Homo sapiens: one gene and its partner. The protein of the gene in region 1 interacts with the protein of each later gene in a pairwise test. Each region holds a gene or a part of one and is shown on either strand. Other genes may lie near its edges.

The links.
Region 2: the proteins of ASRGL1 (region 1) and MAP2K5 interact in a two-hybrid assay, tested with the Homo sapiens proteins (one large-scale study listed by BioGRID and IntAct).

What each region holds. Positions count from the first base shown.
Region 1 is NC_000011.10:62,389,315-62,391,873, forward strand, and holds part of ASRGL1 (isoaspartyl peptidase/L-asparaginase), read left to right. Parts: intron 1-2,185; coding exon of another isoform or gene 2,186-2,207; coding exon 2,208-2,318; exon of another isoform or gene 2,319-2,319; intron 2,320-2,559. UniProt on the Homo sapiens protein: Has both L-asparaginase and beta-aspartyl peptidase activity. May be involved in the production of L-aspartate, which can act as an excitatory neurotransmitter in some brain regions. Is highly active with L-Asp beta-methyl ester.
Region 2 is NC_000015.10:67,583,876-67,587,702, forward strand, and holds part of MAP2K5 (dual specificity mitogen-activated protein kinase kinase 5), read left to right. Parts: intron 1-2,014; coding exon 2,015-2,055; intron 2,056-2,970; coding exon 2,971-3,038; intron 3,039-3,827. UniProt on the Homo sapiens protein: Acts as a scaffold for the formation of a ternary MAP3K2/MAP3K3-MAP3K5-MAPK7 signaling complex.

The DNA of each region.
Region 1 (2,559 bases):
TCTATTCCCTGCCCCTCTCCGTTTCTTGCTGCGTTCCCTTTCTGCTTTTGGTGCAGCTCCAGGATGTCTGGGAGTGACAATGGGGTTGGAAGGGGTTGTTCGGGGTGCTGCCTTGAGAGGGTGTTTGTATCTGGCGCCACTGTTTTTACTAGATTGCATGCCTTTTTGGAACAACTTGGGGAGAGAAGTGGAGACAGGGATGCTAACGTTGCCCCCAGTCTACCCTGTCGTGATTCTGTCTTCTCTTTAGCCACAGTTTCAGGATCTGCAGACTTACTTGAGTAAGACTTACTCCCGAGACATGGGCTCTGATTAGCAATCTGAGAAATCTGAGACTGCAGTTGTTAGATCTGAGCAGCATGAAAGTGACATACTTCTACAGACACATTATAGATTGAGATGTTGTTTACATTAACGGGGAAGCACGCCATCTCATTCCCAGGAGTGGGTGAGAGGCAGGGCTGGGGGGCTGTATGTTTCACTCCGTGCAGACTTTCACACTTGTCATGCAGGAATCCTCATGAACCCCCACAGGTGACTGAAGTTTTGAGAAGCAGCTAAATTGTTCCATCTGCCCTAAAGAGCAGCTTATTCTTTTAGAGGAAAACTAGCCCTACCTTCCCTTTTTAATGTGTTGCTCTAGTCTTTAGTAATAATCTACACTCTCGACAATTCTTGATACCCTTTTTCTGTCATGAACTCAGAGACACTGGAAGCTTCCTTAAAAAGAGTAGAGGCTTGGTAACTCCTCTTCTCCTTGGTATATCACCCAAGAGATGTGAAGTAGTCTACCTTTCTTTCTCCTTGGCAAAAATCCCACCAAACTGTGCCTGGTCAGTAGTGCAGCTTGCTTCAGCTGCGTTCAGACCAGGCCACAGGGCCACTCCAGGTTAGATCCTAGAAATTAATTTTAAGCTTGAGTTACAGTGGTAAATCTTGACAAGAAAAGGCATAAGCTAAATTCTCAGAACTCTCTGTCCAGCTGTGAGCACCAGGTGTGCTCTGCCTGGCCTTCTGAGGAGCCTCCCCAAGGAGCACTGCCACTGGCCAGGCCCCTGCCTGGACAGTCATGGGGGACGGTACTAGGCTCAGCAGTGGTCACCTCAGGCAATGCACTTGTCCTGAGAAGTGCATGTGGCGGGGAGGACAGCTTCACACGCCCGATGCCTGTGCCAGGACCACCCTTGGAGACACCTGGCCTTCTGTGGTCCTAGAGTAACTGAAAAGTAAGCAAAGACTTGGCTGCTTCCAAATATTAGGGCACTTTGACACCATGGAACCCGGTCAGTTAATTCCCCAGCAGAAGCTTATAAGAAAAAGTAAAGGCGCCTCCTCCCACTGCAGCAGTTCATTGGCTGTCCAGTGTCAGCTCCCTCCAGAACCAGAGCCAGGGATTATCTGCCTTTGAGAACCTCTGGGGCCTTGTGACAATCCAATGCAGCATCTCAACTCCTGAGTCCTTGCCCCATGTCCAGCATCAATAAGTAAGGCAAATGTCAATCTTCTGTGCTTCTGTATCAACTGTGGGAGGGTAAAGGCGAATCCTTCCAAGGCTAAAGGACTCTGAGGCTGGTAGCTGTGTGTGAACAGATACAAGAATGACTCAGAGAAGGCTGTAAGGTTGCTTAATCCAAGCCCAAAATAAGGAAGAAATCTTATCAAAGTAGCTTTCACTCCAGACCCCCACTTAAGTGGATAGCCCAGAATAGTTCCCTCAGGTCCAATTATGCCCACCCTCAACAAATATAACTGCCCTCCATTAGACAGTGTGCATGGATGTTAGGTTGTGGGTATCATTTTCCCCAAATCACTGGAACATGATGGCCTTGCTAGAGATCCATATAATGCAGTCATGCTGTTTCTTCCTCCATAGTGTGTGGGGCATGAGGAGGAGACAGGGAGAGGGTGGCTTCATTGAGCAAAAAGGAATGGCTGTGCTTTGGGGCCAAGGAGATGCTGTCCTGCTGTAGCTGCTCTGTGAAAGGTCAGGCCTGCCCCTCTGAGGCTCCCTTTATCCTCCTAAATTCTGGGGCATCTACATGACGCTTTCTAGTCCACCTTTGCCTCCGCAGATCATGGCTACTAACCTGACCTTTGTCGGTACTTGAGCACCCTTCGCGATTTAACTTTCATGTAGCGTCCGACTTCTAATATGGATTTGAATTTCTTGACTGTTACTGCTCAGAACAATCACCCTTTTTGAGCAGGAGCTGGAGGTTATGCCGACAATGACATCGGAGCCGTCTCAACCACAGGGCATGGGGAAAGCATCCTGAAGGTGAACCTGGCTAGACTCACCCTGTTCCACATAGAACAAGGTACACAGACCACAGGACAAGTAAAATAATTTGTGAAGATAAGTGCATAGAAGGTATTTGATAAGTAAGCGCATGGAGAAGTGTAGGAAACCCTTTCCTGTTGGCTACAGATGTTGCTTTCAGGCCGTTAACACCTTGTTTTGACTCTCCGCCTTCCCTTAGGTCTGGAATGGTAGAGCATTGAGTACTGTTATCTTCCACATCTCAGGAGAAGGGGGCAGTAGAGAGACATTGAGCCTGG
Region 2 (3,827 bases), on another chromosome or scaffold:
AGCTGGGGCTACAGGCATGTGCCACCACGCTGGGCATTTTTTTTTAATTTTTTAATAGCGACAAGGTATCACAGTGTTGCCCAGGCTGGTGTCAAACTCCTGAGCTCAAGCAATCCTCCCACCACCACTTCTCCAAGTGCTGGGATGAAAGGCATGAGCCACCATGCCTGGCCATAATTCTGATGTAATAACATGTTCTCCTCATTCCAAGTAGCACAGTTGCCTTGGATAGTAACTCCCAGGTCATGGCTAAGTCCTCTACATTGTTAAAAGATATGTTAAATATTAATAAGTGTGAACATTGACTAGCTTTATAGTAATTCCTGACCCGATAACTTTAGGAAATATGAGGTTACTGGGTTTTTTGACTGCTGTTTACATCTCCAGTTATAAAAGTTTGAGAAGTCAATTGAGGAGTGAGGCAGATGTTAAGGTTAGAGATAAGAGTTGATGTTTGTCTCTGATTCCTTGGCTAGCCACTTTGTTTAAATGAAATTTATGAATGCACTGCTTACTTCAGTGGAAATATTTTGAAGTGTTGTCTTAGGAAGTATTGATGGTCCCTCAAGGACCAGACGTCAAATGCATGTGACTGTAGTTCAAAAGGTTAATTTCCATTTTAAGGAAAGAAGATTTTGAGTCTTAATTTTAATGCATTTTAGAAAGGCAAGTAAAAACATTTTGTTATGGTTTAGATATATTTTCTAGGAAAAATAACATAATAAATTTGAGTATATTTGGAATATACAAAATGAAAGCAACTGCAGTGTTTTGTAATTATTACCCATATCTTCTCCTTTTTTTTTTTTTTTTTTTTTTTTGACACAGAGTCTCGCTCTGTCGCCCAGGCTGGAGTGCAGTGGCGTGATCTCAGCTCACTGCAAGCTCTGCCTCCTGGGTTCACAACATTCTCCTGCCTCACGACATTCTCCTGCCTCAGCCTCCCGAGTAGCTGGGACTACAGGCGCCCGCCACCATGCCCAGCTAATTTTTTGTATTTTAGGTAGAGACAGCGTTTCACCATATTGGCCAGGTTGGTCTTGATCTCTTGACCTCATGATCAGCCCACCTCAGCCTCCCAAAGTGCTGGGATTACAGGCTTGAGCCACTGCACCCAGTCATTACCCACATCTTATTATTAAACAGCTCTATTTCTTGTTGTCAGAAACAGGAAAACGACATGTACATCTGAGAGAGGAGCAAAAAAAAAAAAAAAAAAATCAAATTAATTCGTCCCCAAACAATCAATCAAAATTGATGGCCCCTTAACATACAATTTGTAGGGCACTATAGTTTTCAAATAGAAGCAGTCTATAACATGGGCAGGAGGCTTTTGTATTTTTAACATTTGTTGAAGAAGCATTTGCTGAATTGGAAAAGTACTAACCTGTAACTCAAGATGGTGTCAGGAAATTAATATTCTTTTTTCCTGGCACTGCCTTATCTCTAGGACTAAATCTTAGCATATGTCAAGATTTGCAAGAAATGTAATAAAATTAGTTATATATCTGTATTTTAATACATTTGACTGCTTATGGCTGTGCAAAGTAGTATTCAAACTAGAATGTTCCATCGTAGAATCCCTAGCAATCTTTTTGGCATTAAAACATCCTTTTCTCACCCCGCTTGCTCACAAAAAAATCCCTTAGCTCTTTTCAAAGTAGTTTAAGTGATAGCAGATATACAATGTAATAGAATGAGGACAGATTGCAGAAATTTGAATTATGAAAGGAATCTAATCATTTTAGCTCAGTTAACTTGATTTTTATATGTTTTAAGCAGAAATTGGAATTTATATGAGGTGGTGTCAGAAAGCTCTTTGCATTTATAAATGCTCACTCCTGCAAGTTAAAACCCTGGTTCATAATTCCCACTTTGGGTCTTGGGAGCCACTTTTCAATCATTTCTCTCTGCTAATTTTGGTGTCACCCTCATTTCTTTTTAAACGATTCATTTTGAGCAAATTTGTAAATGGCCCTGATGTGTTCTACAATTTAGTCAATTACTGTTTCAGCCTGCAAGCCTCCTGGGGAACGGAACATACATGGCCTGAAGGTACGAATTTCAATAATTGTTTCAGTAAAGTTAGATGGATTTGTAATGCTGTGTTCCACTTATTGAAATGTCAAATAAAACTGCACTTTCTCAAGCTCTGACAAGCGATCCTTTTATTTTTTTTAAATGGGAGGTGGAGGGGGATTCATCTGTAGTATTTGCTCAGTATGTGTATATATTTGCATACTGGGGGTTTGGTACTGTATTTTCAATTATTTGGAATTGTTTTGTTGGTCAGTGTCTTCAGGATAATCCTAGGTGCTGGTATCTACAAAGATTTTAGTAAGAATATAGACTTCATTTCAGTGATTAATTAAGCACATAAGCATATTGCACATGGAATACCCTCTCTTGACATATTTATGCTAGAAACATATATCTAGTTAATGTCTTTTCATTCTGTGTATTTTGAATTCTGGATTTCTGTTTAGGGCTTCACATCTGAAAGAAAAGCTGGCTTTTGTATTAGGCTCAAATATTTCATAATTAATTATTTGGACCTCATTTTTTAGTGAATAAGAAACATTCTACATACAGTGTTCTGCTTGGTTGCAGAGCTGGAAGGATATAACTTGAGGTTCACTACTAACCCCTGGGTATATTCTTAATGTACTTTTTGAACATACTGTTTTTATATGTATTCTAGACAGTGAGTTGGATTTTCACACTGTTTATGTCTCCTTTTTCATCACTGTTTAAGTATTTAATGGAATAATGACAGGAATAGAATATTATGTAATGTATGGGTTATACGGTTTTGTAACCTATATACTGAATAGACTCCAACTGTGGGTTTGTCTAGCAACAAGCTAATTAACCTTCATAGTGAAATGAGAAATTTGTGGCAAATTATAGGTTAATTAGAACTGTGTCCTCAGAACACAAGACTGATCAAGATTCTTTCTTTACTTATAGGTGAATACTCGGGCCGGACCCTCTCAACACAGCAGCCCAGCAGTCTCAGATTCACTTCCAAGCAATAGGTGCGAGCGAGCAAGTAAAGTGTGCCCTTGATGTGATTTATCTACAGAGTTGGGGTGGGGTGGGGAAGAAGCTAGAAAGAAATTTGACCAGTTAGATAACCTAGCTACGTATTGACCAAAGAGAAAGGACCTCATATGGAAAGATGAATGTTTAGATTTAGACTGGGTGCTGAGAAGGCTCTCTGGGGAGAGTGACGTTTCTGTTTTGACCTGAAGAAGCAGAGAAGGGCGTTTCAGACGGAGGGAAGAGGGTAGGTGAAGGCCCTGAGGTGGAGAAGGAGCTCAGCATGTTTGTGAGTAGGCCAGTTTGGCACAGGGAGGGGTGCTGGGTTGGGGAAGGGATTTGGAGAGAGGAGATGAGAGAGCAATAGGAGTGATAGGAGCTAAGGAGGTAGACAGGACTTATCATGCGGGGCCTCGTAGGCCCTGTAATGTTTGAATTTTCCTTTTGGTGCACTGGCTAGCAGTTAGAGGGCTTTTAGTAGGAGAGGGACATGGCCAGCCCTGTGTTTTTAAAAGATCCTCTGCCTGTGGTGTGGCGAATGAGCAGAAGCTCCCATCTAATCCTGCCCTCCTTTAATGTTTGACTTCCTACTCCTTGCCAAATGGTCATCAAATCTCTTACTGAACATCCCTGTCGGAGGAATGCACTTTATCAGCCAACGCAGCTCCTTCCCTTTTTTACTTGGCTACATCTCAGAAGGCTCTTTTTTGTGAGCTGAGATTTGTCTTTCTATAGCGCCCACTCATAACGTTTTAGTTAAGCCCTCAGAACGTGGTTGTTCCCTC